2 linked regions of the Homo sapiens genome follow. The protein of the gene in region 1 purifies or fractionates together with the protein of each later gene. This does not show direct contact. Each region holds a gene or a part of one and is shown in the gene's direction. Other genes may lie near its edges.

Region 1 (4,117 bases):
CTGGGCCACCAGAAGGATTGGACCTATTGTCCTAAGTGAGACAGATGTCGGAAAAGGTTTTCAGCAGAGTAGAGAGATCATTTTGTTATGACAGGTTTCAGTTACAAATCAGTTTATGTTGGGAGAAGTATTTTTTTCTTAAATCCACTGTGACCTCTTCTCTGACAAAGGGGGTGTTTGCCAGCTGCAGCAGCCACTAGGTCAGCTTGGTCATGGGGTGGGTGGCATGGCAGGGCAGGGCCCAAACTCGGGAGAATGGGACAGACTGTTATCACTAGGGACCTGCTGTTACCAGGGAAACTGTTAAAATGAGCTGGTTTTCATCAGGTTATTGTAGGATGGAATACATTTTTTGGAGACAAGAAAGTTTTGTGGAAACAGGCATTTATTCACAGATGATTGAAAGCCATATTTACTGGTGAAATGTATGTGCCCCGTGTTTAAAGTGACTTGTGGATTTGCTTTTTCTTTTTTAAATAGGACATTGAAGAATCCCTTTTGGAGCCAGGTACTGATAAGAGAAACACGACAGTTATGGTTTGAAAGTTTTCACACTATTATTTTAAAGCTGTCTATATTTTAAGCTGTGTTATGATCTTGTAAATTGCTCTAATGGTGGACAATCCAGATCATACAAGGATCAGAGATTGGAAACCCATTCGTATCACCAGATCTGTGGAAGAGCCATTCTGGCTTCTTGAGGTCAAATACATTTGGTGCAATGTAGTAGTGATTCTTTTCATGTCTAACCACGTAGAGTGGCATTTAATTCCCCCGTCCCCGTGATTCCTCCATGTGTTTCTACACATGAAACAGATCTTGTGATATTTTGCTGCAGTCATTTTGATTAACGCAGTTAAGGCAGGATAAAGCTGTTGTCAGGGCACTTACCACCTGAGAAGTGACTGGATTCCAGAAGAGGAAACAGAGTTTCTCCGTGAAAATTTTCAACATATTATTCCCCTTCCGGACTGCGTTTATCTCCCACCGTCAGAAGAGATTCTGATTTTCATATTGGATTGTTCTGTTAAAAGAAATTCAAAGAAATTTGGAAGTTGAGCTGTCATTGAATGGTGATTGCATTCGGTTCAGCACCTTGGACATTGGAAAATCAGTCAGAAGACCCAGACTTGAACAAAAACTCGAAGAAGACTATTGAGAACCAGCCGCGTGGTTGTAGGTGTTTAAATCTGTGGGGGCCTTTTCTCTTCCGTGTAGCGTAGAGGCTTACCTAGAGGCGGTCGCGGCGCAGGTAGTGTAACCAGTATAACTTTGTGTACCCGCGGGTTTTCCAATCTCTGTGTAGCTAGCAGTTCTCTTCGTGTTAGTGTGGCAGCCGTGCCAGTTCCACATTTGTGATTGCTTTATTTCCCTGGTAATTAAACCTTGTGCCATTCTATTCCTGTTAAATCCGTAGAAAATGAGAAAATACTCGACATTTTGGGGGAAACTTGTAAATCTGAGCCAGTAAAAGAAGAAAGTTCCGAGCTGGAGCAGCCATTTGCACAGGACACAAGTAGCGTGGGGCCAGACAGAAAGCTTGCGGAGGAAGAGGACCTATTTGACAGCGCCCATCCGGAAGAGGGTGATTTAGATTTGGCCAGCGAGTCAACAGCACACGCTCAGTCGAGCAAGGCAGACAGCCTGTTAGCGGTAGTGAAAAGGGAGCCCGCGGAGCAGCCAGGCGATGGCGAGAGGACGGACTGTGAGCCTGTAGGGCTAGAGCCGGCAGTTGAGCAGAGTAGTGCGGCCTCCGAGCTCGCGGAGGCCTCTAGCGAGGAGCTCGCAGAAGCACCCACGGAAGCCCCAAGCCCAGAAGCCAGAGATAGCAAAGAAGACGGGAGGAAGTTTGATTTTGACGCTTGTAATGAAGTCCCTCCGGCTCCTAAAGAGTCCTCAACCAGTGAGGGCGCTGATCAGAAAATGAGGTTTGTTTTTTCTCAGTTTTAGACCAGACGCTATCTCCTTTTCATTGGTCATGTAATGACACACATAAGCTGTTTTTTTCTGCAATTGGCCAGCCAGACTGACGAAATTGTAGTTTTGCTTCTAAAGAATGTTTCGTTTCTCTTTGTGTGTTTTTAATGGGTGATTCAATTCCTTTTCTTTTTCTCAACCTACCATGGTTGTGTTCTTAAATTGTTAATTGTTATCTTCAGCTAAATCGAATTGACTTTTACAAATCTGACATTGTATTTTTGGGGTCAGATTTTCCAATATAAGCTTGCAGAGGTGTCTGTTAAAATTTTATTTCAGACTAATTTTCTGGTAGGTATTCAGTTTTAGCACATAATCATATTTTTAGTTTTGTTCTCTTTCGTTTTTTTCCTGTATGAGTAACATTAACTTTTGTCTCTAGCTCTTTTAAGGAAGAAAAAGATATAAAGCCAATCATTAAAGATGAAAAAGGTATGATTTAATTTAACGTGGTAGGGAGCCAGGTATGGTTCCCTTATTTTGGGAGGAGGGGCCTGGAGATATACACACTTTGGATTCAGTAATTTGTTTTGTTATGGGTTACCGGAATCAACCACCTAATGGTTTCTTGAGAGACTAGTTTTAGAAGTTCGCAAGCACCTGCATTTTATGTTTCTCTTGTGGTTGTCATCTATGGGATGGTGAAAAGCACATTACAAGAAAGGAATAATTCTGCTCATTGAAGACTGTTTCAAGGATTTTAGAGACTGCCGTCTTGGATGAGATCTGATCATCAAAAGACATTTCAGTTCATAACTGACATGGGCATGATTATTCCTTGAGTAAGGAAACTCAGTTTTTGCTGTCCAGATTTTCAGCCTTCTGTGTGTTGGCATGTGTGTGTGCGTTAAATTCTTAAGTCAGCAGTTGGGATTGGGCGTCGTTAGGGTTTTTAAAGAGGGCTGCGGTCTTAAGAATGGTTGTGCTTCCTGTTAGGCCTTGGGGTGATGCCTAAGAATCTCCCTCTCGTGCCAGGTCGGGTCGGCAGCGGTTCTGGTCGGAACCTGTGGGTCAGCGGGCTGTCCTCCACAACACGCGCTACGGATCTCAAGAACCTTTTCAGCAAGTATGGGAAGGTATGCCTTCCCTTGCCTCATACCATCCACTGTGATTCAGAGTTAAAAAGGAAGCTCTGCTGGGCACGGTGGTTCACGTCTATAATCCCAGCAGTTTGGGAGGCTGAGGCAGGAGGATTGCTTGAGCCCAGGAGTTCAAGACCAGCCTGGGCAACATAGCAAGATGTTGTGTTTACTAAAAAATGGAACGACAGCAGCGAAGCTCGCCCAGTCTTGTGCAGTGCACCTTGTTTCCTGACTCACAGTAACTAGGGTGCGGAGCAGGGCAGGTGGTTGGTCATATCACAACAGTGCTCAGAACAGCTGTATAAACAGCTTCTCTCTCAATGTTCTTGGGGTTCTTTCTAACTGGTCTCAAAGAGACTGGTGGTCTTTTGTCTTGTGCAAAACTTAAAGCTTACATGATGAGATTTTTCCCTTAAGAATAATTTGGGAGGCCGAGGCGGGCGTATCACCTAAAGTCAGGAGTTGGAGACCAGCCTGGCCAACATGGCGAAACCCTGTCTCTGCTAAAAATACAAAAATCAGCCAGCCGTGGTGTTCTGTGCCTGTAGTCGCAGCTACTCGGGAAGCTGAGGTGGGAGAATCACTTGAACCCAGGAGGCAGAGGTTGCAGTGAGCCAAGATTGTGCCACTGCACTCCAGCCTGGGTAACAGAGCGAGACTATGTCATAAAAAAAAAAAAAAAAAAAAAGAATGAAGTGAATAATTGACTTTCATATCATTTAGCATTTTAAGTATATAGTCTCATAACTAGAACATGATCGTGGTTCAAAAATAAATCACTAAGATGCTGCTCATGGGGGTGGGAGAAAAATAGTACAATTCAGCAGCTTTCCAAAGGAAGGTGAGGACAATTTAAAATGATTCCACTGTTTGAAATTAATTAAGAGTCTTCTTTTTTTGTTTGTTTGTTGTTCTTTTTTTTTTTTTTTTTTTTTTTGAGACTGCGTCTCGCTCTGTTGCCCAGGCTGAAGTGCAGTGGTGTGATCTTGGCTCACTGCAGCCTCCGCCTCCCTCCCAGGTTCAAGTGATTCTCGTGCCTTAGCTTCTCGAGTAGCTGG
Region 2 (3,600 bases), on another chromosome or scaffold:
CCCTCAGCTCCTATCTCTGTATGGCCTGGTTTTTCCTAGGCTATGATTATTGAGTGAGGATTATCATAATATTGGAATAAAAAGTAATTGCTACCAACTAATGATTAATGATACTCATATATAATCATATCTAAGATCTATATCTGGTATAACAATTCTTGTTTTATATTTTATTATACTGGAACAGCTCGTGTCCTCTGTCTCTTGCCTCGGTGCCTGGGTGGCTTGCCACCCACAGATACCAGCGTGGCCAACATAGTGAAACCCCAACTCTACTAAAAATACAAAAATTAGCCAGGCGTGGTGGCGTGTGCCTGTAATCCCAGCTATTTGGGAGGCTGAGGCAGGAGAATTGCTTGAACCCAGGAGGCAGAGGTTGCAGTGAGCCGGGATTGTGCTATTGCACTCCAGCCTAGGCCACAAGACTGAAATTCTGTCTCAAAAAAAAAAAGGACCCCACTGGCTACTTCATGTAAAACTGGGTGGGAAGTCAGGTCAGGAGGTAGCACTGTGGCCAGGAGAAGGCTTTGTGTCCTCCAAACCTGGGTTTATTTAACAGACAACTAGGTAGAATCCCCTAGACACCATGGTTGGGACATTTTTACTAAGATCATCCACTCGGCAACTCTGGGGCCAGGCCCACCAGAGGTCCTCAGGGCCCTGTCATCCCCTGGAGGATGGGGGGCAGCTGCCCTTGGGCAAGGGGGTATTGATAGGGGTGGGTATTGGATGTCAACATAGTTTCTGAAAGGAAGCAGGATTCTTCTTCTCAGACAATGCCTGTGGAAGACAAGTCAGACCCCCCAGAGGGGTCTGAGGAAGCCGCAGAGCCCCGGATGGACACACCAGAAGGTGAGGGAGGGAGGCTGCTGGCCCTTCAGAGGGACATGAATGGGGTGGGGCCAGTGGGCGGGTCAGCAGGTGATAGAGGCAGGTGTGGGAGGCAGGGGTTCTTGGTGGGAAGGCGGGGAGCCCAGGCCCCATCTCTTGGAGGTCAGAGATGCTTGCTCTTCCCAACATGAGTTCCCTCGCTCATGCCTCCATTCCAGACCAAGATTTACCGCCCTGCCCAGAGGACATCGCCAAGGAAAAACGCACTCCAGCACCTGAGCCTGAGCCTTGTGAGGCGTCCGAGCTGCCAGCAAAGAGATTGAGGAGGTAACTGATGCTGAAAACCTGACCTGCGCCCGGGTGCCCTGTGCTCTCATTCCTGCAAAGGCAGGGGTGGCAATGGCAGAGGGGGTGCACCATTCAGTGGAGCTGGAGCAAGGAAAGGGCCTTGGCCTCTGATTTGGAGGAAGGCCTTACTTATTTCCGCACCTGACCTGGGGAAGCTCCCAGCCAGACTCTGGTGTCTTCCTTGAGACTGAGCCACCTGGGGGCCAAGCTGGATGGCTGCGTGGGAGGGGTGAAGACGTTCATCTGGGACCGTAGTGGGCAGGCCATTTACAAAGCCAATTGGATACATGTCAGCAAGTTGTGGGAGGTGAGAACGATCCTCCCCGGTTTATTTAGGTGAATCTGAGGCCTAGACAGCCAAAGGAGTTTGCCCAAATCCCCAGCCTGTAAGTGGTAGAGCCAGCATTAGAAACCAAGTCTTGGGCTGTATGTGGTGGCTCACACCTGTAATCCCAGCACTTTGGGAGGCTGAGGCGGGCGGATCACCTGAGGTTGGGAGTTTGAGACCAACCTGACCAACATGGAGAAACCCCGTCTCTACTAAAAGTACAAAATTAGCTGGGTGTGGTGGCGCATGTCTGTAATCCCAGCTACTCCGGAGGCTGAGGCAGGAGAATCGCTTGGACCTGGGAGACGGAGGTTGTGGTGAGCCGAGATCGCGCCATTGCACTCCAGCCTGGGCAACAAGAGCGAAACTCCATCTCAAAAAAACAAACAAACAACAACAAAAAACCAAAAACAAACAAAAAGAAACAGTCTTGGGCTGGGCGCGGTGGCTCACACCTGTAATCCCAGGTTTCACCATGTTGGTTAGGCTGATCTGGAACTCCTGACCTCAAATGATCCACCTGCCTCAGCCTCCCAAAGTGCTGGGTTTACAGATGCGAGCCACCACGCTCGGCCTAGTTTTGGCCTTACTTGGGAGCCCCTGGGGCCTCTTTGAAGACATGACTGGGATTTTTTTTTGATCCTTCCTAGCTCAGAAGAGCCCACAGAGAAGGAACCTCCAGGGCAGTTACAGGTGAAGGCCCAGCCGCAGGCCCGGATGACAGTACCGAAACAGACACAGACACCAGACCTGCTGCCTGAGGCCCTGGAAGCCCAAGTGCTGCCACGATTCCAGCCACGGGTCCTGCAGGTCCAGGCCCAGGTGCAGTCACAGACTCAGCCGCGGATACCATCCACAGACACCCAGGTGCAGCCAAAGCTGCAGAAGCAGGCGCAAACACAGACCTCTCCAGAGCACTTAGTGCTGCAACAGAAGCAGGTGCAGCCACAGCTGCAGCAGGAGGCAGAGCCACAGAAGCAGGTGCAGCCACAGGTACAGCCACAGGCACATTCACAGGGCCCAAGGCAGGTGCAGCTGCAGCAGGAGGCAGAGCCGCTGAAGCAGGTGCAGCCACAGGTGCAGCCCCAGGCACATTCACAGCCCCCAAGGCAGGTGCAGCTGCAGCTGCAGAAGCAGGTCCAGACACAGACATATCCACAGGTCCACACACAGGCACAGCCAAGCGTCCAGCCACAGGAGCATCCTCCAGCGCAGGTGTCAGTACAGCCACCAGAGCAGACCCATGAGCAGCCTCACACCCAGCCGCAGGTGTCGTTGCTGGCTCCAGAGCAAACACCAGTTGTGGTTCATGTCTGCGGGCTGGAGATGCCACCTGATGCAGTAGAAGCTGGTGGAGGTAAGTGAGCACTGGCTCCCAGCTGGTCTGGTGATGGGACAGCTCTGCCCAGACCCTTCATTCCTCCCCTGACTGGGTGCTGCCTGGGACTGAGGGCTAGGCCTGGAACCCAGGTCCAGGGCCATCCATGCTGGGGGCCTCAAGGTTCTGGCTGCGGACGGAGAAGGCAGCTCTTGGGCCTGGGGACTCTGGGAAATACAGCACATCTGTCATTTCAGGCATGGAAAAGACCTTGCCAGAGCCTGTGGGCACCCAAGTCAGCATGGAAGAGATTCAGAATGAGTCGGCCTGTGGCCTAGATGTGGGAGAATGTGAAAACAGAGCGAGAGAGATGCCAGGGGTGGGTAGAGGCCCTGATGTGGCAGTGTGAGGGCCACAGAGCCCAGCAGGGTGGGATGGCCTCTTTCTGCCCCAGGCCACCTCAGGGCCTCCTTGTGTTTCCCCCACCGTGAAATGGGATGACAGCCCTCTGCCTAGGATGGGTGGCCAGACCAGGCTGGGCTTGATAGTGGTGTGCATGGGACCCTCTTGCTGTTGTGCTGTCTTCACATCCGTCCCTTCCAGCCTGCCCATCCCCAAGCCAGAGCCCCAGTCTCCTCGCATGGGTAATGTTGCTCTCGTGGAGAGAGCACAGAGTGGAAGCCTCTCTGTGGGATTTGGGTCCCAGCTCTGCGTAACTGTGGGCAAACCCTTTCCCTCCTGAGTCTGTTTCCCCATCTGTCATACAAGGGGTGGG

What was found.
Region 2: the proteins of SAFB2 (region 1) and CIZ1 purify together in Homo sapiens (affinity purification with mass spectrometry; 2 studies listed by BioGRID and IntAct, with this or other methods). This does not show direct contact.

The regions. Positions count from the first base shown.
Region 1 is NC_000019.10:5,608,931-5,613,047, reverse strand, and holds part of SAFB2 (scaffold attachment factor B2), read left to right. Parts: intron 1-480; coding exon 481-508; intron 509-1,417; coding exon 1,418-1,928; intron 1,929-2,359; coding exon 2,360-2,409; intron 2,410-2,952; coding exon 2,953-3,053; intron 3,054-4,117. UniProt on the Homo sapiens protein: Binds to scaffold/matrix attachment region (S/MAR) DNA. Can function as an estrogen receptor corepressor and can also inhibit cell proliferation.
Region 2 is NC_000009.12:128,177,973-128,181,572, reverse strand, and holds part of CIZ1 (cip1-interacting zinc finger protein), read left to right. Parts: intron 1-758; coding exon 759-852; intron 853-1,049; coding exon 1,050-1,158; intron 1,159-2,157; coding exon 2,158-2,864; intron 2,865-3,082; coding exon 3,083-3,204; intron 3,205-3,600. UniProt on the Homo sapiens protein: May regulate the subcellular localization of CIP/WAF1.